Homo sapiens: one gene and its partners. The protein of the gene in region 6 purifies or fractionates together with the protein of the main gene of each other region. This does not show direct contact. Each region holds a gene or a part of one and is shown on either strand. Other genes may lie near its edges. The genes, in order: P4HA2, COP1, RPL4, CAMK2B, ZMAT2, ZNF397 and P3H4.

Region 1 (3,500 bases), on a different chromosome or scaffold from region 6:
AAAAAGAAAAGGGCAGAGAAAAGAAGACGGAAGGGCAGGCTTCCATGAGGTCCTGAACTCTGTCCCCAGAGTCAGGGCCAGCATGAACAGGCAGTACAGGATGCCTGCTGCAAGGGGGTGAGGAGGTGCCAGCAGGCAGGAAAAGGCAAGCCACCCATCCCTAGGGTAGGCACTGAGAAGTCCTGAAGTTGGGGCTTGAGCAGCTACGAACCCCTGCTCTTTGCTTACCTTTTGGAAACCCGGTAGCTGGCGACAGTGAGGACTCCTGTCTTGGGATCACGAACGGTGGCTCGTGCAAGCTAGAAGGAAGGAGGAGAGGGAAGACTTGATTTGTTTGTTTGTTTGTTTTGCCTTGAATATTTTCCCAGAGAGCACTGGGACCAGATTTACTGCCATGCTAGTGGAGGAAGCTTTGCAGCCAATGGCTCTAGCCAAGGCCCCAAGATCCTGCAGGCCAGTTGAGGGCAAGAGTCTGAGGCCTCCACATTCCCAATCCGCAATCAGTTCCTGGCTATTGCCCTGCTCGGTCACTGCTCATCCCTTCTCCTCCCCAGGTCCGCTTTGCCTGCAGAATTATGCCTGCCTTGTCTACCCATGCATCTGCCTGACTAGCCCCTTTCCTTGCCAGGCCCACATACCACCCCTGCCTGAGCACAGCCTGCCTGAGCTTAGCTACTCCCACCATTTTCAGACTGTGCCACCATGCCTGAGCCTCCGCCTTATGTACTTCTCTCAATTGAGTCAAGTTCCACCATCCTTCCGAACCTCAGTGGGCTCCTCTGCCAAGAAACCCATCCAAACACTCTCCTGCTGCACCACCTCACACTGGGTTCCCACAGCCTCAAGAAGCAAAGACAGATGGCACAGTTTTCGCTCCCTTGGGATCCTTACAAGTCAGATGATAAAACCAGGAAAAGATTCTGTAAGTTAAAATAAGTGAACCACTGCCTGGAAGCCACCCACTCATACAGGTACACACTACACATGCACTCCCTGCATCTACTTCATCTCCCCCAGCCTCCACAGTTAGGCTTAGTGAAACCCCAAGGGGGACTCGCCGCCCAGAGCCAGCCAACATGGCAAAGGTCCATGTGCTTCAGCTGTGGACTGTCCTCATGACCTCACATGGGTGGGGCCATAGGCCCAGGTACTCCCACCCCAACACACTTCCCCTTGATTTCAATAAATATTGATGAGTGCCTACTTTGTGCCTGGCACTATGCTAGGTAACTGAGACATGGCCCCTGCACTCTTACAACTCAGTCAAGTGGGGAAAGCAGAAAACCAGTCAGGTAACTGCAGCACAGCATGGGTGAACTTACCATCCTGTGGAAGCTCAGGGTATAGTGTCAAGAATAGCTTCCTAGGGGAGGAGACCACCTAGCTGAGGCCTGAAGGGTTAACATGAGTTATCCAAGTAGAGGAACATTACAGGAACAGGGAAAGAGCAGCAATCCAGAGGCCTGGGAATGAAAATGGGTGTTGCAGTAGGTGTGGATTAAAGGTTATGGGAAGTAGTAAGAGAGAACAGGCTGAAGAGACAAGCAGGGGCTAGGAACTAGATGCAACCTTGTGGCCAACGAGAAATGGGGAAGGCTTTATGCAGGGGAGGGACACTCAAAATGTGAATGTAAAATGGATCACTGTGAATACCTCATGGAGAGTTGACTAATGAGGGGCCAGAGTGGGGACTGGGAGGCTAGTGAGGCCACGACAGAGGTCAGGGCAAGAGATGATGGTGGCCCGGGCCAGGTGGTGGCAGAAGGGATGGAGAGGAGTAGATGGACCAGAAGGCTAGTAAGGGGGTGAGATGGACCAACTTGGACACTGTGCTGCTATGGCATGATCTGGTAAGATGGCCAGCACAAGCAGGACAGACGGCTCCCAAGCTCCTACTCATGGCCCTTCCTGAGCTTCAGCTCATGTCAGTCCCTCCCTGAAAACTGCAGCCACAGCCAGACCCCATCCAAACATCTGTGCCTCAGCATTGGCCTGACACCCACAAAGAGGCTCTGAGCAGCTGTGCTCTGCCCCAGGGGAAGCACAGGGCTATTTTGAAAGCAGGCCAGAGACCCCACAGACAGCTGCCAGGCATTCCCCACAGGCCAAGTTAAGCTCATTGGCTCTACTTCAAAGCCAGAATAGCATCTGTCCCTCACAGTCTCCGGAAAGGAGGGGTCAGCTTATCTTTGAATAGAAGCCATGTTAAGAGCCAAACATGTTTGCCAACCTTGTTTGGCTCTTTGCATGGCTTCTATTCAAATATATCTTTTCCTAACACTACCCTCTGGCCAGCCACACACATGTGTACACATATGCACACATGCACAGAGAAATGTTCTCAGTGTCTGGAACTGAAGAACGGGTAAGAAATCTCTCAGGAAATCCTGGCACAACCAACAAAGTAGTTTTCTTTCCTGGAGGACTCTGGAGCTGAGTAGAAAGGGGAGTCCTAGTCCCCATTCTCCATATATCTGGCTAGCCCCCTTCCTCAGCCACATCGATGATGCCAACCACTGACTCAAAGCCCTAGATGTCCTAGTACCTCAAGCCAAAGCTGTTCCAAGATGAGGTCCAGGGGCCAGGATAGGAACCTATTTCAGGTCTCTCCATGAGTGTCGGGCCTCCTGGTCACCTCGGCCCCTACAATTCTATTAGGAGCAGAGCAATAGAGAATCGAGCTAAATCCTCCCTCCCAATCATCAGTGATGGGATATGGCAGCAAATAGGTCTCTTTGAAAGATGTCAAATGGGGAACAAATCTTTTATGAACTAGAAACAGAAGAATAATTTTAAAACATGGCATATATACAAAACCAACAGCCAACTGCATTCTTAGCAGTAAAATACCATAGGAATTTCCAGGAAATTCAGGAATGAGACAAGGATGCCTATTCTACGTAATTATGCTCTAGAAGTTCTGGGCAATTCAATAAGGTTATAAAAACAAAGGAACTACAAGTATCAGGAGAAAATAAAATTTTCCTTATTTCCAGGTGTTAATGCTATCCAGGCAACCAAAGAGAAATCAGCTAAAAACCAAAAAAGAAATAAGTAAATTCAACCACTAGCTGCAATCTGTATGAGTTTGCTTTTTCATAGGTAAAACAGAGACAGTGACATCATTATGAGCAGCTGTTCATAACTGTGACATAACACTTAATATATATGTTAAGCACTTAGAAGTTCCTGCCACAGTTAAGAATTCAGTAAACATTAGCTCTTACTATGAAATGTATTTGTAAAATCAATAGTTTGGCATATAATAGTAAACTAATAAAATAATGTAACCAGTTAAAAATAATAATGAAGAAATAAAGTAAATTAACAGTAACAAAGAAACTACCAAGGAATAAACTTAAGAAATGTTCAAGGCTTATATGAAGAAAACTTAAAAAGATATGGAGAGACCTGTCATGCCCTTGGATGAGAAGACCCAATATTATAAAGATATACATTCTCCTCTAAGTCATTCACCTCATTTACAGTCCTAATCAGGA
Region 2 (3,500 bases), on a different chromosome or scaffold from region 6:
TCTTTCTTTATGTGTGTATGAGCCAAGTTCTATTCAGATAGGTTGGTACTTTCTCAAACAATATATTCACTGAGAGTAACATGTTTTTCTTTATACTTAAAATATGTTAGTTGTCCTTTCATTTTTCACAATTAAGTTTTATGAACTGATTTTGCCTCTGTTTCTATATAAAGTGAAACATAGAATGCAGTAGGTGATCTGATTTCTGTTTATTGTATTTCTGGTGTAACCATTGGGAATCCATCCTTCTTTCCTAATCTGTGTGGTTTGGGGTGGTACATTTTTTCCCCAAATTCAGAATTGGAACACATGATCCATGCTCAAGTGTCTAGTGCATTGGAATCCTCTGTCTTTAGTATTAATTCACAGATGGGCATTTGGCTCTAAATAGAGATAATGAGACAAAGTAGGCTTTGTAAAAATTACGACTGTTTTGGGGGTTCTTTTAGATATTTGAAACTCAAACGTTCATAAATGCCAAGTCCACTCAAGTGAAGATGGAATGTGTTGTACTGACAATTAGTTTGGGACAAATACTCATAATAATAAGTGCTCAAATATAAATTGCTATTTGCCAGGCACTATTTTAAAGGTTTTACGTTACTTGTTTAATCTTCACAACAACTGTTTGCTGTAGATACTCTTATAGTTCCCATTTTGTAGATGAGGAAATGTGGCCCATAGAGGTTATATAACTTGTCTCAGTTACACGGTTAATAATGGTGGTACCAGTATTTATATTCAGACAATTTGGCTCAGAGGTCAGGTTCTTAACCACTATTACAAATGGTTACCCAAGTTAACCACCCATTTCCTTGCCTTTATTTAGAGGCTGATTTTGTTTAAAATTAGCTTTACTAAGTTATAATTTGCATAAAATAAGTCACTGGTCATAAGTGTGTAGTTGAATGAGTTTTGACACATGAATACACCTGTGCAGTCACCACCCTAATGAAGATATGATACATTTCCAGAAAGTTCACTTTTGCCAGCACTTCATACTCTGTGTCTACCTTCACACCTAACACCTGGCAACCAGTGATCTGCTTTGCATTGCTGTCATTTTGCCTTTTCTGGAATTTCATATTAATGGAGTCCTTTAGTCGGTAGTCTTTTGTGTCTGGTTTCTTTCGTTTGGTATAATGTTTTGAAATACACTGATGATGTTGAGTGTACTGTTTTTTTTCTTTTAATTGCTTAGTATTATCCCATTATATGGATATAACATGAACTGCTTATATATTTGCTAGTTAAAAGATTTTTGACTTGTTTCTAGTTTTTGGCTATTATTTAGAAAATTCTGTAAGCATTCAGGTTTTTGTGCAGACACGTCTTCACATTTTTAGGGTAAAAATATCTAGTAGTGAATTGCTGAGTTCTCTGCCAAGTGTATGTTTAGTTTTAAAATAAACTGCAAAACTTTTTAAAAACTGCCTCTACCATTTTGCATTTCTTTTTTATCTTTTTTTGAGATGGGAGTCTCATACTGTCGCCCCAGCTGGAGTGCAGTGGCACGATCTCAGCTTGGTGCAACCTCTGCCTCCTGGGTTCAAGCAATTCTCCTGCCTTAACCTCCCGAGTAGCTAGGATTACAGGCGCCCGCCACCATGCCAAGCTAATTTTTTGTATTTTTAGTAGAGATGGGGTTTCACTGTGTTGGCCGGGTTGGTCTCGATCCCTGGACCTCATGGTCCCCACGCCTCGGCCTCCCAAAGTGCTGGGATTACAGGTGTGAGCCACCACACCCGGCCACCATTTTGCATTTCTACCAGCAACAATTAAAAGTTCTTTTATTTGGTTTGTATTTATTTCTTGTATTGTTTTATTTGTTTTTAATTGTTTCACATCCTTGCCAGTGCTCAGTGTTTTCAGTCTTTTAAATATTAGTCATTTTTGTGGATATGTAGTTTTATCACATTGTTATGTAACATATTTTTATGTGCTTATTTTTCATTTGCATATCTTTTGTGAAATGTCTGTTTTGATCTTTGGCCCATTTTTTCCCTTAAAATTGCATGTCATCTTGCGTTGTAAGTGTTCTTTATGTATTCTGCATACATCTTTTGTCAGACCTGTGTATTGTGGTATTTTCTCTTAGTCTGTTGCTTATCTTTTCATTTTCTTAATAATTTTTTAAAGTGCAAAAGTTTTTTCTTTTTTCTAATGTATCGATAAAGTTTTCAGTTTTAAGTCCAAATTGATTTTTATTATTTTTAATTTTTGTGTTCTAGCTAAGAAGTTATCTAACATGAAATTAGAAAACATTCTCTTGTATATTTTCTACTAGAAGATTTATAGTTTTCTTATGGTTATGATCCACTTCAAGTTAGTTTTTATACACTGTGTTTGGTAAGGGTTGAAGGCTTCATTAATATTATAACATCATTTGTTGAAAAGATCATCTCTGTTCATTGAATTTTCTTGGCACCTTTCTCAAAAATTAACCATATATATGAGTTTATTTCTGCAATTTTTATTCTGTCCCGTTGGTGTATATATGTTTATCCCTACACAAGTGCCACACTGTTTTGATTATGGTATTATTATAGTACATCTTGAAATCAGGTAGTGTAATTTTTATCCTTTATTTCAAAGTTGTTTTGATTATTTATGTTCTTTGCATTTCCACATAAATCTTAGGATTAGCGTGCCAATTTCTATAAAAAAGGATGTAGGATTTTAATGTTGGTTACTTTGAATCTGTGATTTCATTTGGGAAGATGACATCTTAATATTATCTTTTGAATCATGAACATAGTATATTTCTCCAATTATTTAGGTCCTCTGTAATTTCTCTTAGCAGTGTTTATGCTTTTCAGTTGAGGTTTTTCACCATATTTTTAAAATTTACCCCTAAGTATTTTATGTTTTTGATGGTGTTCTAAATGTTGTTCTTTTAATTTCGATTTCTAATTGTTGCTAGTATGTAAATACACTTTTTTTATGTTGACCTTGTATTTTATGAAATTTTAAGTTTACTTACTAGTTCTAATAATTTTTTGGTAGAACCTATAGGATTTGTAAGAAAACAGTCATGTTATCTGTATATGAATATACTTTTACATCTTTTAAATTTATATGCCCTATTTAAAGAACGTACGTTAATGGATTTATTTGATTGGGTAATTGTTTAAAAGGATTTTTTGGACCTTTATTAGTGAGTGATACTGGTCTGTGAATTTCTTTTAATTTTTTTCTGGTTTTCATATCACAGTGTATTGGTTTGCTTGGGCTGCCGTAACAAAATACAACAGACTAGGTGGCTTAAACAACAGAAATTTATTTTCTCATAGGTCTAGAGACTAGAAGTACAAAACAATGTGTAGGCAGATTCGGTTTCTTCTGAGGCCTGTTTCCTTTCTTTTTTTCAAAAGAGGTGGTCTTGCTGTCTCGCCCAAGCTGGAGTACAGTGGCACCATCACACTGCTTACTGCATCCTCGAACTTCTGGGCCCAAGGGATCCTCCTCCCTCATCTTCCTAGTAGCTGGCTCTACAGGCA
Region 3 (2,171 bases), on a different chromosome or scaffold from region 6:
GGCGCCACCACAGCTAGTGAGTAGCGGAGAACTGGCCGCAGCAGGTGGTCACCACAGAGGCCCAGGTTGGGGGGAAATGGTCGCTCGGGAGGAATGGAGGAGGGGCAGGAGAGGGCCGCGGGGTCACCTTGAGGCGGTTCAGCTGGTCGTGCAGGGCTGCCTTCAACCGCAGCAGCGTCTCCTCCTCCTTGCGCAGTTCCTGAAGCCGGCTCAGCATGTTGCCTGGTCACATAGCCAACCTCCGGGCTGCTGTCGGCCCGGCACTCGGTGATGACGCCATCGCCGCCGACTCCCGGAAACCGAGCGGGGAGGCGGGGCTGCCCGACACATTGAGGAAAGGCGAGGAGTGCGCCCCCTTCCGGCGCCCGCCGTAGCCTGGCCACTCCGCGGGGGACGAGCTGCAGGAAGGGGTACAGCCTGTGTCAAAACACCTTGATTCATGAGTAATGATCAGGATTTTGAAATTAGATCCATGGAGCTGTAAAGAACCTGAAGAAATCTTGGGTTTGGCTATCCTTTAATCCGATAGGCCATTTGCGCACCAAGTGGTCAAACACCGTTTCAAATGACCGGGTGAACAGCACTTCCAATGTGGTGTGCCACCAAGTGGCTATCTTTAACCCCACAAAACTTGCACATGTGTTTGAAGGCAGGCACCAAATCAGTAGCACATGAACTCTACTGTGTTAAGAGGCCCTGCAGGGTAGGACTCACAGTGGACTTTAAAGGGGTAAGGCTGCACAAAATAGAGAAATAAAGAGCATGAAAATAAAGCCGTGCTAAGAAACGACGTGCTTAAGAACTGAGATTTGGCCCTGGAAATGGGGAGGGTTAACAGATCACCTTGGCTGTGAACTGAGACTGTCTTGACAGTTCGAGACTGTCAGAGAGAAGCTGACAGTTTAACAATCCAGATGCAAAACAAGACTTTTGACACAGGACAAGAGGTTAATTCTAGGGTAATATTTGCAGTTTAGCTTTATGGGTAAAAAAAAACACCCTTATATCTGGAGGCATTTCATGGGTACTTCTTTTGAACACAGTTGGTTAACATAATCACCAAGACACACAGGCAGTCCTGAAAAATGCTTCTGGTACTTTTCAGAGAGTCTTGCTCTGACGCCCAGGCTGGAGGGCAATGGTACAATCTTGGCTCATTGCAACCTCCACCTCCCAGGTTCAAGTGATTCTCTTGCCTCAGCCTCCAAGTAGCTGGGGTTACAGGCATGCACCATGACTGGCTATTTTTTATATTTTCAGTAGAGACGAGATTTCATCATGTTGACCAGGCTGGTCTTGAACTCATTGGCTCAAGTGCTCTGCCCACCTTAGGGTCCCAAAGTGTTGGGATTACAGATGTGGGCCAGTGTGGCCTTCTGGCACTTTTTCAAACCATGGGTGAAAATACTCAACTCTATTGTTATAGCTGGTTAAAAAGAACACTTCTCAAGAGGTAATCAATTTTACTGCAGTACCAAAAAAATTGTGCTCTCCAGTTGTGCCCTCTTGTGGTTAAAGTTAAATCTTTACAGAATTTAACCTATTTTCCATCTGGTGGGGAGCTAAACTTGAACAGCCTCTGCGTTTCTGACCAAGTCCTGTTACACCTATTTTTCAAGCCACATTATTTAGAAAACCACAACTTTTTTTAAATCATTCCCCTTCCACTGAACTCCATGGACTTAGTATAAATCCATGCCCCATTTTATACCACACTATATAAAATGTAACAGTCTAAATTATGGCCAACAAAATGTCACTTTAAAAAAATTCTAACCAAGCTTTACAGAGCACACCAAGTCATGTTTCTCACTGCCTGTATAATCAGGTCTTTATTCAAAAGAAGCTGTCCAAAATGATTTGACCTTTATGGAATAATCAAATTTAAGAGTTTATGCAGCAGGCTTCTTCTCCTCTGTAGTAGGTTTCTTCTCTGCAGGCTTCTTTTCAGGGGCTGGTTTCTTGGTAGCTGCTGCCTTTTTTCCCACCAGAGGCTTCTTCTGCTTCTTAACACCAACAGCAGCCTTCTTTCCTTTCTTACCTACCACAGGCTTCTTGCCTGCAACCGCCGCCTTCTCATCTGATTTGGCTTGTAGTGCCGCTGCTGCAGCAGCTGCCTTATCCACCCGGAGCTTGTGCTGCAACAAATTAGGCAGAAAACAGTAAGAATC
Region 4 (3,500 bases), on a different chromosome or scaffold from region 6:
GGGAGAGGCTGCTGGCCAGCAAGAAGCTGTCAGGTAAGTGGCCCTTGAGGAACGCTGGACGGGGTTACAGGGAGAGGAGGGAGTCACGGGCGTTACAGAGGAGGCCTGGCCTGGCCCCATGAGGACAGCCCAGGTCAGCAGAGGCCAGGCTTATGATTCTCCGTACTATCCCCTTGTTGGTGAGCTCCAGAGACCCTGGTCGGGGTTCCAGTTTTGGCACCTTCCTCAGCCTCCTAGACTGAGGGAGGGTGCTCAGGGGTTGGGGCCACATCAGGAACCAGGGTGGCCCTGAGTGCAGCTCCTGGGCACCATGGGCAGGGCCCCTGGGTGGGTGTGAAGTCTGTGGGGCTGGGACAGTGATCAGCAGAGAGGGCCTAGGGGCATGGGGGGCCTCGGAGGGGCCAGGGCTGCCCAGGGCTGGGACAGACATTTTGGAGAGGGGCCTGGGGCTGGACAGCGAGCGGGGAGTGGCAGTGGGAGCAGGAGCCGTGGAGGGGTCTGGGCCCCTTAGGGAGAAGCCAGGAGCTGCCCTGCTGGTTAGCATGGGAGCCCACAGGAAGCCCCGCCAGGGCAGGACTCCAGGCTGCGGCGCCGGGGCAGGGTAGCTGGGCCGTGCATGCAGGTGGGAAGCTGCTGAGCGCCGGCCATTCGCAGGGAGCTGTCCGGCAGCAGAGGCGGCAGGCCTGGGGGCCACTACTTACACGGGGAGGACAGGGGGCCTAGGAGAGCCGGAGACAGGCAGGGCGGGGGCCCCGCTGAGAGGGGGCCCTCGGCTTCTGGGGTTCCTGAACCCCTTCTCACAGAGTTCAGGATGTCAGAGATCCTGGGGGCTGGGGTGGAACAGATGAGACGTGAACATGAGGCAGACAGACACACGAGGCGGCGGCAAGGCGGAGGAGGCCAGTGGGAGGGGTCCCGTGTTCTAGACCCCTTGGGCCCTGGGATCAGGCCCTGAATCAGAGCCTGCCTCAATAGCAGGGAGCCCCCCCGCCCGCAAGCTGAGGTGGAGTGAGGCCTGCACCGACCCTGAAGACTGGAATTGAGGCCCGAGCCTCCAGGGCCTCCCATCCTGCCCAGTGGCCTTGAGCAGGAAAGTGGTCCAGGGCCCTCCTCACAAAGAGGTGGGGCTCGATGGGCTGGGGCCACCCTGGAAAGCCCCAGTGAGGGATTGTGGGGTGATGAGGCTGGAGCCAGGGTCCACGCTCAGCCTGCCCTCGGCTCTGGAGTGGCCCCTCTAGGGGGTTGCCAGCCCTCCAACATGACCCCCACAGCAGCAGGACCCAGGCTACTTACATGGGGCTGGCAGGGGGCTAAAGGGAGCCGGAGATGGGCAGGGCAGGGGCCCCTCGGCTTCTGGGGCTCCCGAGCCCCTCCTCACTGAGCTCAGGATGTCGGGGACCCTGGGGGCTGAGGCGGAACAGGTGAGGCAGGCAGGTGGGTGGTGCGCCCGCAGGAAAAGAAGGCAACTGGAGAAGGACAGGGGGAGGCCAGGAGGGAGGGAGGGGGTGACAGCTGGATACCTGGGGCTCCTGGGGTGGAGGTGGGGTGGCCACCTGTGGGGGTCCTGGGCCTGTGGTGGCCGCAGCAGGTATGTGAAGGCTGAAGGAGCCAACACGGGACCGGTGCCAGAGCCAGAGCCAGCAGAGGCCAGGGCAGCACAGGCCAGTGCAGGCTGGCGCAGAGTCAGAGGCCACCCTGCCACCCTAGTGCTGTGACCACCCCTGGCCAGAGCCAGCAGAGGCCAGGCGCACGGAGAGGGAGTGACAGTCATCGTAGGGGCATGATGGCCACTGAGCCTGCCTGGACTCTGTACCAGCCTCAGGGCAGGCTGGCAAGGCTTCTTTCTGCACGGGGTGGGGTGGGGGGTGTCTGCCTCCACCTCGAGAGGCTGCTCGGGCTCAGATCTGAGCCACAGCTGCTGGCTTCTGGCTGTCTTCTCTTCTCCCCTGCAGGATCCAGGCTGGGCCCCCCTCCCAGGTCCCCTCCCTCACTGCTCAGCACCCCACTCGGCTGAGGGTGATGGAGAACCTCTGGACAGCCTTCATGCTGTTGCCTTTGGGGCCTGTTCCAGACTGCAGGGGAATCACACAAACACCCACTCTCCGGCATCCAGGGCCCAAAGTCCTGTGCTCATCTCTGCTCAGGGACAGTGTCATAGCTGGGTAGGCCGGGCAGGAGCAAGGCTATGCTTTGGACAGGTGAGAAGTTTTCTCCCCTAAACTGGCAGAGTGGCTGACCCTTTTTGGGCACCAGGGTAGCCCTGAGAACAGCATAAGGCTTATTAGGTGACCGTGTGAGCGATGAGGGTCAGGAGGCCCCATGTGGGTGGTCTGGAGGCGGCAGAATCCATGGAGCATGCCCCAGTGCCTGGTGCCCTGGGGGCCTCTTGGGGAACACACAAGACATTGGCCTGGGTGAGCAAGGGAGGGGGCCCTGGAATCTGTGGTGCAGAAACCCACCGCAGCAGGACACTCCTGGCTAAGCAAAGGCAAACACGGAAACACTCACCCAGCTGCCCGGCCACTTGGCAAGTGCATGCTGGACAGAAACGCAAGCTTAAGGAGCTTTAAGACAAGGACAGCATCTTGGAACAAATTCTACCCATGGGCCTGTTTCCCCGTGAGGGTCCTGGTGTGGAGAACCTGCCTCCATGCAAAGCCGTGGCTTCCTCACTTGGATGCGGTGACCGAGACTGCCCAGCTGTCGGTCATCTCTGCCATGCTTCTCCGCTCTGGGCAGGCCTGACACCCAGGCTTGGAGCAGGATTACAGCTACAGGGTCCCTGAGCCCCTCAACACATGCATAAACTAGGCGTCGCAGGAGAGTTGACCCTGCCCAAGTCCCACCCACCTCAAAGAGCAACCCAGCAATGCCAAGGCCGCTGGGGGGGCAAGGACTCAAGTGCAGGTACCTTTAGCGTCTTCATCCTCTATGGTGGTATTGGCACTGTCAGAAGACTCCTGAGGAAACACGGGAGGCAGCGGGTCAGGATGCGGCCAAGGATAGGTGGGACGTGGCTGAGGGCAGGTGGACAGGGCTGGGCCTGTGTCAGGACCAGCCCAGGCTCTGAAGCTGATCTCTGCCTCGGCTGCTTCCACGGGGCTTAAAGGCCAGGGGCTCAGGGGACATGCCCTCTGGCGGCTGCAGGGCCCCAGCTCTGTGGACCTCATGCGGCAGTGACCGGAGAAGACACCCAGTTCTGTGCTGGTCCCTGGGAGGGCGCCCCTCACCAGGGTGCATTCTCACGGCAGCCAGCACAGGCTGGCACGGAGTCCGAGGCCGGCCCTGCCACCCTAGTGCTGTGGCCACCCTGCATCCCCAACACATGAGGGCTCCACTTCTCCCAGCAAGATGAGCCTGGCAGAGAGACTGGTATGCTCAGCTGACTCTTTAACAAGAGAGGAAAATGGGCTTTTTGAAATTCCAAGACGTAAAACACAATGGGACTGGCTGGTTCCAATGAAGCAGCAGCCGGTGTCATCCAAAATACAGGGTGAGGC
Region 5 (3,740 bases), on a different chromosome or scaffold from region 6:
TAGTCTCGAACTCCCGACCTCAGGTGATCCGCCCGCCTCGGCCTCCCAAAGTGCTGGGATTACAGGCGTGAGCCACCATGCCCGGCCACCCCATAGACCTTTCTATAAGACTGCTCACAATAAAGCAACTGGCTTCCCCAGAGCAAGTAACCCAAACAAAGACAGAAGGCATGGTTTTTAAAATAACCTAATTTTGGAAGATACTACTTTTGACATATTCTATTGGCCAAACAGACCAACTCTGGTACAAATTGGGAAGAGACTACACAGAGTAGGAATACCAAGAGGGTGGGGCTCATCCTGGGGCTGTCTTGGAAGATGACTGCTATACTCTCTCGAAAGCTAAGGCTTTATAGAAATGAAGGCTTAACACTTCTAAAAAGAAGTTTACCTAAAAATTTGAGTTTCTTGGTTGAAAATGATAAGATCCTTAAAACCATATTTGACTCAGGTGCTGTTTCTTCCTGTTAGATATTACTGCAATGTCTGTGACTGTGTGGTGAAGGACTCCATCAACTTTCTGGATCACATTAATGGAAAGAAACGTAAGGCTTGGAGGTAGCTTGTGACTAGGGCTGGAATTGGGTTTTGGAGGTGGGGTGGAATGGAAGGGTAGCTTTTTTTTTCTTCTTTTTACTCATCAAAAGATGGCTGGAGTAAGAAGGGTAGTTTCTACTGGGCTCTTTTTTGATGCCCCTATTAGAACTCTCCAGTTGTTTCAGCACAGGCCGTCTTTTACTTCATTATGTAATATTTCTGGAGGCCGTGAGGTAAGAGGCCTCATTCTGGAGGCCATGAGGCTTTCAACAGCACCCAAACCATGTGCTGCTCCTGGACCCAGCTGGCCAAGGGAGTTTCTTTTAGCCATAATTATTTTTGCTGTGTGTTTTATGAGATGTCAGAGAAGTCAGGAAAATAATTTTTGAGGGGCTGAGGATGTTGTAATGAACTTGCCTTCTTCACTGTTGACCCTATGCAGATCAGAGAAACCTGGGCATGTCTATGCGTGTGGAACGTTCCACCCTGGATCAGGTGAAGAAACGTTTTGAGGTCAACAAGAAGAAGATGGAAGAGAAGCAGAAGGATTATGATTTTGAGGAAAGGATGAAGGAGCTCAGAGAAGAGGTAAGGGTCTCCTATCCTTCCCCTCTCCCCCAGATTTGAGTTTTATGTTATGAATCATGGGAGACCCTGTCCTCATCCCACTCCTACTCCCACCCCCAGAGTTGTATCTCCTGAGTTCTGTATATTAGCGGAAACATTTGTTGCCTTTGTTTAGGATTCTCATGATCTGAAGGAAATGGCTCTGAAACTACTTTTTTCTCCTAGACTCTCTGGGCCTTATTTTTTTTTTTGTAATTTAAAAAAAAATTTTTTTTTTTTTTGGTCATACAGATATTTCTCAACTTCTGATGGGGTTACCTACTGATAAACCTATCATCAAGTTAAAAATATCATAAGTCAAAAATACATAATACACCTAACCTACTGTAGTTTAGCCTAGCCTACCTTAATGTGCTCAGAACACATTAGCCTACAATTGACCCAAATTATCTAACACAAAGCCTATTCTATAATAAAGTATTCATCTCATTAATTTATTGAATACTGTACTGAATGTGAAAAACAATGGTTGTATGGATACTTGAAGTACAGTTTCAAATGCATGTCAGTTTTTCACCATTATAAAATTGAAAAATCTTGTCAGCATCATAAGTTGAGGACTGTCTCATCTGTATTCTTTGATTTAATTTTTTTAAAAGACTAAACTTTTTTTAGAGGAGTTTAGGTTTGCAACAAAATTGAGAGGGAGTTATAAAGATTTCCCATATACCCACTGTCCCCCACAACATGCATAGCCTCCCCCATAATTTTTTTTTTTTTTTAACTGCAAGAGGAATTAACTAAATGTACCTAGTCCTAAAGAGACCCATGAAATCAGGCTGACTGGGTCAAAATTCTGTTTCTTCCACTTACTGGCTGTGAATCTTGGGCAAGTTATATAACCTCTTTGTGCCTCAATATCCCCATATTAGAGATCTTAATATACATGAAGTACTCAGAGCAATTTCTGGCATGTACTGCATGCCCCAGAATGTTAGTTGTTGTTACAAACAACATTTGGCTGAGGAGTCTAAACTGATTCTGAGTGATTTTTCCCTCCAGGAGGAAAAGGCCAAAGCGTACAAGAAAGAGAAACAGAAGGAGAAGAAAAGGAGGGCTGAGGAGGACTTGACATTTGAGGAGGACGATGAGATGGCAGCTGTGATGGGCTTCTCTGGCTTTGGTTCCACCAAGAAGAGTTACTGAGGCTTTCTGTGCTTGGCCTGACTTTGGCCTATGCTGGACCTAACTTTGCGTGTGTGTGTGTGTAGTAGGGGGTCATTTCTTTTTGGGTAATGGGAAAGTTCTTAAGAGTGTCAATGGGGAGGGATAGAGGGTGGGGGCTCATGGTTTCCCTCTACTTTGGGAGAGGGCACAGATTGCAGAGGTAATGCTGTGGCATATTGCTTCTGCCTCAGTGTATCACTGGAGTCACAGGACCCTGCCCACCTGAGTTCCCAATAAAGAAAAACCTCCCCTTCTGAGGCTGCTTTCCCAAAACTCCCCCTGCATCTTTATCTCTTCATCTATCCCACCTCTTGTCTGAACATCCCACCTTTATCCTGTGTTCTGCCTTTGTTTTAATTTTAACTCATGTTCATCCTGCAACAGAAGCATTCTCTAGGTCCCAGTTTCCAGTTGATTGCATATCCTTGATCAGCCCTTTTTCCCATCCTGCCCTATGGTTCTCTAGCCACCTGTGCATGCATGTGTATTTCTGCCTGGTTCTATGGTGTGTGGATGTGTGTGCATGAATCTGTCATATAGAGGGGGTCCGAGCTGGAATCCTAGAGCATTGCTGCCCTGGGGCCTGATGTTCTTGGCTTCCTCAGAGCATGTAACAGGAAATTAAATGGGATGAGTGTTTGGTGTGGTTTGTGTCTGATGAGTTTTTTAACATTCAGGTGTAGATTGTTTCAGCTTCTCATGTTTCATTTTCCTGAAGATTTATGTTTTTGTCTACCTTGTGAGCAGGCTTTTGGAAGAACCTGTTTGATGCAAAAAAGAAAATGAAAAACAAAACAAAAAATCCCCAAAACCTTATTATGGGAGCCCGTCGGTCTTAGAAGCTGTTTGACATGTATAATAAATGGCATTGACTGGGCCTGTTTTACATTTGGTGAGAACATTCCATAATCTTCCCTGTGAATATTTGTTTTTCCTTCTCATGCTGAGGATTTCCATATAGAGTATTTTATTCTTCCATTTTAAATCTTATTTTTGCCTAGGTTTTTTTTTAGCATGAGTTATGTTTTCGTCTGATAAGGGATCTATGTCCAGAGAAGTCTGAACCAAAACGATTCCTATCATTTCAGACTCCTTTGATCTTTTGTTTTTGGAACAGCAGAGCTCAGGATTGAACATAATGTTTTTTCTTTTTTTTTTTTCTTTTTTTTGAGACAGTCTTGCTCTATCGCCCAGTCTGGAGTGCAGTGGCGTAATCTTGGCTCACTGCAACCTCCGCCTCCTGGCTTCAAGTGGCTAATATTGTATTTTTAGTAGAGATGGGGTTTCACCATGTTGGCTAGGCTGGTCTCAAACCCCTGACCTCAGGTGATCCACCTGCCTCGGCCTCCCAAAGTGCTGGGATTACAGGCGTGAGCCACTGCACCTGGCCCTTAGTGTTTTTCTTACTG
Region 6 (3,137 bases):
AGACTTCTCTGACAGACAAGACCTCACTACAACAGGAACTCAAGGAATGCTCCACACTTTGTTTCTGGCCTTTGGCTACTGTTCTTTACTGGGGTACCACTTCCCTAGAGTACCACCTTGGCTAACTCCTCCTCATCCTTCAGGCCATTTCCCCCATTTCCTTATCCAAGGCTGAGTCAGGTGCTCCTTAAGGTCACATAGGAGCATTCCACTTTCACTGCCTGTCTGGCTGCCTTGCCCATTAGACTGTAGAGACTACAGTCTTGTTTTCCACTGTATTCCTAGTTCCTGGGACAAAGTAGGTACTCAAAAAATAACCTTTGGGTAAATTATATTCTTTCTTCTCATGCCTATCTAATTCCTGGCCTGCCCTGGGCTCAACAAATCATTGATGAAGCCATTTCCCCACCTTTCCTGCTGCTCTGTCACTGTTCTTTATTGGGTCAGTTTTTTTTTTTTTTTTAGTTCCTGAGACGAAGTGCCTCACACAGTCCACACCAGCCCCATAACCTGGCACACTAACAATCAGATGCAGTGACAGAGCCTGGGTTGCTATATTCATGACACTTTCATACAAAATGAGGTTTCAATGTTACATTCCCACTTTTCGTATTTCCTGAGTATTCCTAATAAGAGAAGAGCTGGAAGTAATGATTCTTCTGTATTCTGTTCTGATTAGTCACAGGAAAAGCTTTCAAGGGACACTTTACATTAGCACTGGGAAATGCTGCACAAAGCAAGCTAGACTCAAGACCTAGTATTTTATAACCTTTATGGAGTTTTGCTCCAAAGTAAACTCTTTTGACTAACAAACTTAAAAATCTGACTGAAGTATTTACACTATTCACAGTATTCACAAATTACTTTATAGTGTGGACTCTTTGATGGCGCATAAGGACCGATCTGTGCCTGAAAGCCTTCCCACATTCATTACATATATAAGCTTCATCCCCAGAATGAATTCTCTGATGCTGAACAAGGGCTGAGCTCCTTTTGAAAGTTTTGCCACATTCATTACACTGATAAGGTTCCTCCCCACTATGAATTCTCTGATGTCTGATAAGGTTTGAGCTCAAACTGAAAGCTTTTCCACATTCACTACATTCATAGGGTTTCTCTCCACTATGTATTCTCTGATGAGTAATCAGCTCTGAGCTCTGCCTGAAAGCTTTTCCACATTCATTACATTCATAGGGTCTCTCTCCTGTGTGAATTCGCTGATGTCTAATGAGTTTTGAGCTCTGGCTAAAGGTTTTCCCACATTCATTACACTCATAAGGTTTCTCACCAGTGTGAATTCTTTGATGTATAATGAGATATGAACTTTGACTGAATGCTTTGCCACACTCATTACATTTACAAGCTTTCTCACCAGTATGGATTTTCCGATGTCTAATGAGGGCTGAGCTCTGATTGAAAGCTTTCCCACATTCACTACATTCATATGCTTTCTCACCACTATGAATTCTCTGATGAATAATAAGATAGGACCTCAAACTAAAGGCCTTCCCACACTGGTTACATTTATAGGGCTTTTCTCCAGTATGGATTCTCTGATGTTGTGTTAGAGAGGAATGCTGCTTGAAGCTGTGCCCACATACATCACATCTATAAGGTCTCTCTTCTGGAGGAACTTTCTGACACATTATAGAGTCTGTAGTTAGAATCAAGCATCTTTCAGCCTCATCATAAAGGTCTCTCTTTCCTAGAGATTTGTTTGTGAAGATCACTTGACTAAAACTGCCCCCTTGGGAAGGAGATCTTAGTTTCTCCCCTGTAGCACTTCCTTGCTTCCACACTAAATTGCTTTCATGCTCACTAATTCCTCGAAATGAAGGTTCCTGAGGGAGTCCCTGTGATTTTTCTTCTGAGATGCCCTCTTTTGTTGCTGTTTCACTGTTCTCACAATCTGAAACAATAAGTAGCAAAAAAACAGATATTACATTTCTCTTGTCACCGTCAAAACTTTCTACATGAGAGAAAACAGAAGCTTCTACCTACAAAGATGTCACTGTCCTCCAGTATCTTTTTTTTCAACTGGCCAAAAGAGGGTCTCTCTTATCTAATAATAAAGTCTACATCTACACTTCGAATTCCATCCTTTCCTGCCTCTTTTGAGACATCAACTGATAAATTACCTACAATTTTTTTCTACTATTTACAATCTCTTTCTCAACTGATTCCTGTTCATCAGCTTTTAAATAAGCTTAAGTGTCTCTCACCTTTTAAAATCAACCTTCTTGCCTACATATCTCCCTCAAGCAACCTCACTCTCTCTCAAGTGGTTTCGCAACCTCACTCTCTCATAGTGATTTCTTGAAAGAGTTGTCTGCAGCCTTTCAAGTGAAAGTATCCTCATTCCACAATCTGGTTTCTGCCTTACTGTCCTCCCCCGCCCCCCACCGCCCCGTCCCCTACTTCCACTGATACTACTCTCATCAAGATCACTTCATAGCTCTTTAATCCACTAAGTACTTTCTAGATTATTACTTAGCCTCTCTGTAGCATTGACACTGAGGATCACACCTTCCTTCTAGAGACATTCTCTTCCAGTGATATTAGCCTGATTTCTGTGGCTGTTCCTTCTTAGATTCTAGGGTAAATCACTCAAACACGAGCGTTCCTCCAGATTCTGTTTTGGGCTCTCATGTATCCTTACTCTACAAACTCTCTACCCTTGGCTTCCATTACATCTTACATTGTAAGCTATTGTCTGACTAATGTCTGCCCAGATCCCCAATTATATCCATATTTTATTAAGCTCTAGAGTCTTATGCTAATTGGGCATTTTACTTTTGAATATTTCACAAGCACCAAATGTACCAACCTAAACACATCATCAGATGTATCTGTTTTTCCTTATGTTTTCTCATTCACATGAACAGTACTACCATTAACCAGACTGTTGAAGACTGAAACCTCAGTATCATCCTCAACTCCTCTCCCTCACACTCTAGTTTTAATAATTACCAGATGTTGCAAAACAACTTAAATGCTGTTGAACAGGAGTCAGCTTTTATGTTCTCCACCGCTTACCATAACACATATTGATTGAATACACTGTGGCCACTTGGATTACAGCAGTCTTTAATAGGACTATACTCTTGCCTTCCTTACATGATTCTCCATTTGCAGCT
Region 7 (3,500 bases), on a different chromosome or scaffold from region 6:
CAGTAGCTGGGATTACAGGTGCCCACCACCACACCTGAGTAATTTTTGTATTTTTAATAGAGACAGGGTTTCACTATGTTGGCCAGGCTCGTCTTGAACTCCTGATCTCAGGTGATCCCTCTGCCTCGGCCTCCCAAATTGCTGGGATTACAGGCATGAGCTACCATACCCGGCCAGATCTTGTGTTATTCTCACCACAACAATGTGAGATGGGCATGATTCTCCCCATTCAATGGATGAAGAAACAGAAGCTTGAGAGGTTGCCTGACACTTGTTTGGAGGCCACCCAACTGGTAAGTAATGGAGCCAGGTCTGGCTAGTTCCTCATCCTGGGTGCTGACGGTGTAGATTCTGCCCTCCTCCTCTGGGGTTGGATGGGTGGGGGCGTGGGGGCATGAACAAAGGAGAGGATACATAAATGAGCACTGAGCAGCAACACCTCAGAGAAATTAAGGCTGTCAAACCCTCACTTGAAATCAATGTTAATAGGGCCGGGTGCGGCTGCTCACGCCTGTAATCCCAGCACTTTGGGAGACCGAGGCAGATAGATCATGAGGTCACGAGGTCGAGACCAGCCTGACCAACACGGTGAAACACTGTCTCTACTAAAAATACAAAAATTAGCCAGGCGTGGTGGTGCACGCCTGTAATCCCAGCTACTCCGGAGGCTGAGGCAGGAGCATCGTGTGAACCCGGGAGGCAGAGGTTTCAGTGAGCTGAGATGACACCACTGCACTCCAGCCTGGGCGGCAGAGCGAGACTCCATCTCAAAAAAAAAAAATAAATAAATAAATAAAATAAATCAATGTAATACAATACGGTCCTTCTGTCCTGAGGTCCTGCATTCATTCATTCACTGGTTCATTCAAACTCAGTTTCTGAGCCCAGGCTCTGTGCAGGATGTGGGAGAACAGGGAATAATGTGGCCCTGTGTCCTGCAGTGCGGTTCTCCTGGATACTGGCTGGAGAAGGGGCCCAGGGCTGAGATGGACGAGGGCTGCAATCACCCAGGTCCAGGCCACAGGTGGCCAGGGAGGCACACAGGTCAGAGTGGGCACTGCTAGCCCAGAACAAAGAGCCAGGGCATGCAGCAAGGGCTTCCTGGAGGAGGCACCATGTGAGCTGGGCCTGGGAGGAACAGGATTGAGACATGTACAAAAGGAGGACATGAGAATACTAAGGCTGGGGAAGGAACGGACAGTCTAGACAAGGAACAGGCAAACCTCTCTTCTTCACGACAGCTGACCACCAGGGGCTGGGGCTGAATTCTGGCACACTGGTGGCCCCAGGAAAAGGTCCAAGGTGTCCCCATCACAGCCCAATCCTGGAAAGCAGGAGGCACTCACCTCATCATCTGACTGCAGGTACATGTGGGTGAACTCCAGCAGCTCCCGCAGCTCGGCGGTCTGGTTGTGGTAGAGCATGGCCTCCTGGAAGGAGGGAAGGACGGGGTGGGGGGTGAGCCATACCCTGTTGCCAGATGGCAAGAAGCCAGGGCTCCTAGGATCTGGGCCCACTGGCCCTCTTCTAGCTCAAGGATCAGAGAATAGGTATCAGCTCACAAGCTCATCAGATCATCGTGGCTGCTTGGAACACTGGGTTAAGGATTCTGAGAGTTTGGTGACAAAGAGTCCCTCAATCGATTAGCAATGTCTGCCACTGACAAGGAAGGCAGGAGTGGCACCATGTGCCCCATATTTGCCAGCCTGGCCCTCAACTCCAACAGATTTCCTCCATTGGTTACCTAGGGTGTTCCTGGGAAAGAGGGACAAAGGTCAGCAGTGAGGGTAATGAAGGTAGGGAGGGGAGCAGGTAGGAGTGGATGTGTACCTTCATACCTCCCTCGTCTGGACACTGCTGGTGAGGTGGCAGTATCACTGCCATTTTGCAGGTGAGGCAATAGATTAGGAAAGGGCCATGGTCTTCCCAGGACCACACAGCAGTGGGGCTGGGCTCTGAAGCCAGGACTCTAACCTCAACTCATATTCTTTCTTTCCATTTCCCATCCTGCCTTCCATGGAAGCCAGGAGTTTATTTTTTATTATTTATTTATTTATTTTTCTTTTGAGACGGAGTCTCGCTCTGTCACCCAGACTGGAGTGCAGTGGCGCGATCTCCGCTCACTGCAAGCTCTGCCTCCCAGGTTCACGCCATTCTCCTGCCTCAGCTTCCCGAGTAGTTGGTACTACAGGCGTCCACCACCATGCCTGGCTAATTTTTTTTTCTTTTCAGTAGAGACGGGGTTTCACCGTGTTAGCCAGGATGGTCCTGATCTCCTGACCTCGTGATCCACCCGCCTCAGCCTCCCAAAGTGCTGGGATTACAGGCATGAGCCACCGCGCCCGGCCGCCAGGAGTTCATTTTTTACAAAGTGCATATCCAGCAAGTGCCCCAGAAAGCAGTGCCCACCTCCCGGGGCTGGAAGTCCTCCTCTTCCAGGCCCCAGCGAGCCCGGTGGAACCGGTAATACACCAGGTTCTGCTGCATGACGCTGTCCTTGGGGTCGAAGAGCATGTAGCTGGCGGCGCTGCGGGCAGCCTGGCGCACATCATTCACTGCAGCAGGACAGGGGTGAGGAATTGCTCTGGCACTTCCCCTTCAGAGTCAACTCCATCTTCCAGTTCAGTCCAGCACCCCTGCTACCCAGCCACCTCCCAGAATACCTAATGGGCTCCTTATCCCACCCAAGCATAATGCCAGCTAGCATGTAGTGGGCACTTACCCTATGCCAGGCCCTGACTAACTCATCTAAGCCTCACTGTTATTGTCTTTTTATTGTTTTTGAAACAGGGTCTCACTCTATCACCCTGGCTAGAGTGCAGTGGTGCAATTATGGTCACCTCAAGCTTGATCTCCCAGGCTTAGGTGATCCTCTCACCTCAGCCTCCTGAGTAGCTGGGATTACAAGCAGGCACCACCACACCCATCTAATTTTTTGTATGTTTTTGTTTGTTTTGAGACAGGGTCTTGTTCTGTCACCCAGGTTGGAGTGCAGTGGTGTGATCTCGGCTCACTACAGCCTCTGCCTCCTGGGCTCAAGCAATCCTCCCACCTCAGTCTCCCCAGTAGCTGGGACTACAGGCACGCGCCACCATGCCTGGCTAACTTTTTGTATTTTTTGTAGACACGGGGTCTTGTCATGTTGCCCAGGTTGGTCTCGAACTCCTGGGCTCAAGCCATCTGCCTGCCTGGGCCTCCCAAAGTGCTGGGATTACAAGTGTGAACCACTGTGCCCAGCCATGCCTACCTATTACTGTCATCCCCATTTTACAGTCAAGAAATCTGAGTCACAGAGAGGTTAGATAAATTGCTCAAGCTCACACAGCTGGAGAATGATGGCTCTAGTGAATTAGAGGCCCTTAGCCTCTCTGCTATGTGTACCCAGGAAGGGTCTCCTGGCCCCTGGGTTCTCAGCCCCTCTGCTCTGACTCCTGGCTCTGTCTGAATCTTGGCATCTCCGAGCTGCAGGAACACTGGAGGCTGTCCATTCCAGCCCCAGT

What was found.
Region 1: the proteins of ZNF397 (region 6) and P4HA2 purify together in Homo sapiens (affinity purification with mass spectrometry; one large-scale study listed by BioGRID and IntAct). This does not show direct contact.
Region 2: the proteins of ZNF397 (region 6) and COP1 purify together in Homo sapiens (affinity purification with mass spectrometry; 4 studies listed by BioGRID and IntAct, with this or other methods). This does not show direct contact.
Region 3: the proteins of ZNF397 (region 6) and RPL4 purify together in Homo sapiens (affinity purification with mass spectrometry; one large-scale study listed by BioGRID and IntAct). This does not show direct contact.
Region 4: the proteins of ZNF397 (region 6) and CAMK2B purify together in Homo sapiens (affinity purification with mass spectrometry; one large-scale study listed by BioGRID and IntAct). This does not show direct contact.
Region 5: the proteins of ZNF397 (region 6) and ZMAT2 purify together in Homo sapiens (co-immunoprecipitation; one large-scale study listed by IntAct). This does not show direct contact.
Region 7: the proteins of ZNF397 (region 6) and P3H4 purify together in Homo sapiens (co-immunoprecipitation; one large-scale study listed by IntAct). This does not show direct contact.

Annotation. Positions count from the first base shown.
Region 1 is NC_000005.10:132,203,854-132,207,353, forward strand, and holds part of P4HA2 (prolyl 4-hydroxylase subunit alpha-2 isoform 2 precursor), read right to left. Parts: intron 300-3,500; coding exon 229-299; intron 1-228. UniProt on the Homo sapiens protein: Catalyzes the post-translational formation of 4-hydroxyproline in -Xaa-Pro-Gly- sequences in collagens and other proteins.
Region 2 is NC_000001.11:176,197,287-176,200,786, reverse strand, and holds part of COP1 (E3 ubiquitin-protein ligase COP1), read left to right. Parts: intron 1-3,500. UniProt on the Homo sapiens protein: E3 ubiquitin-protein ligase that mediates ubiquitination and subsequent proteasomal degradation of target proteins.
Region 3 is NC_000015.10:66,497,515-66,499,685, forward strand, and holds the end of RPL4 (large ribosomal subunit protein uL4), read right to left. Parts: intron 2,139-2,171; coding exon 1,893-2,138; 3' UTR 501-1,892; downstream 1-500. Other genes in the region: SNAPC5 (snRNA-activating protein complex subunit 5), read right to left, coding at 128-217. UniProt on the Homo sapiens protein: Component of the large ribosomal subunit. The ribosome is a large ribonucleoprotein complex responsible for the synthesis of proteins in the cell.
Region 4 is NC_000007.14:44,228,095-44,231,594, forward strand, and holds part of CAMK2B (calcium/calmodulin-dependent protein kinase type II subunit beta), read right to left. Parts: intron 2,961-3,500; coding exon 2,912-2,960; intron 1,408-2,911; coding exon 1,294-1,407; intron 831-1,293; coding exon 702-830; intron 1-701. UniProt on the Homo sapiens protein: Calcium/calmodulin-dependent protein kinase that functions autonomously after Ca(2+)/calmodulin-binding and autophosphorylation, and is involved in dendritic spine and synapse formation, neuronal plasticity and regulation of sarcoplasmic reticulum Ca(2+) transport in skeletal muscle.
Region 5 is NC_000005.10:140,703,447-140,707,186, forward strand, and holds the end of ZMAT2 (zinc finger matrin-type protein 2), read left to right. Parts: intron 1-471; coding exon 472-545; intron 546-979; coding exon 980-1,125; intron 1,126-2,166; coding exon 2,167-2,310; 3' UTR 2,311-3,240; downstream 3,241-3,740. UniProt on the Homo sapiens protein: Involved in pre-mRNA splicing as a component of the spliceosome.
Region 6 is NC_000018.10:35,244,034-35,247,170, reverse strand, and holds part of ZNF397 (zinc finger protein 397), read right to left. Parts: intron 1,910-3,137; coding exon 861-1,909; 3' UTR 1-860. UniProt on the Homo sapiens protein: Isoform 3 acts as a DNA-dependent transcriptional repressor.
Region 7 is NC_000017.11:41,805,450-41,808,949, forward strand, and holds part of P3H4 (endoplasmic reticulum protein SC65 precursor), read right to left. Parts: intron 2,556-3,500; coding exon 2,410-2,555; intron 1,431-2,409; coding exon 1,347-1,430; intron 1-1,346. UniProt on the Homo sapiens protein: Part of a complex composed of PLOD1, P3H3 and P3H4 that catalyzes hydroxylation of lysine residues in collagen alpha chains and is required for normal assembly and cross-linking of collagen fibrils.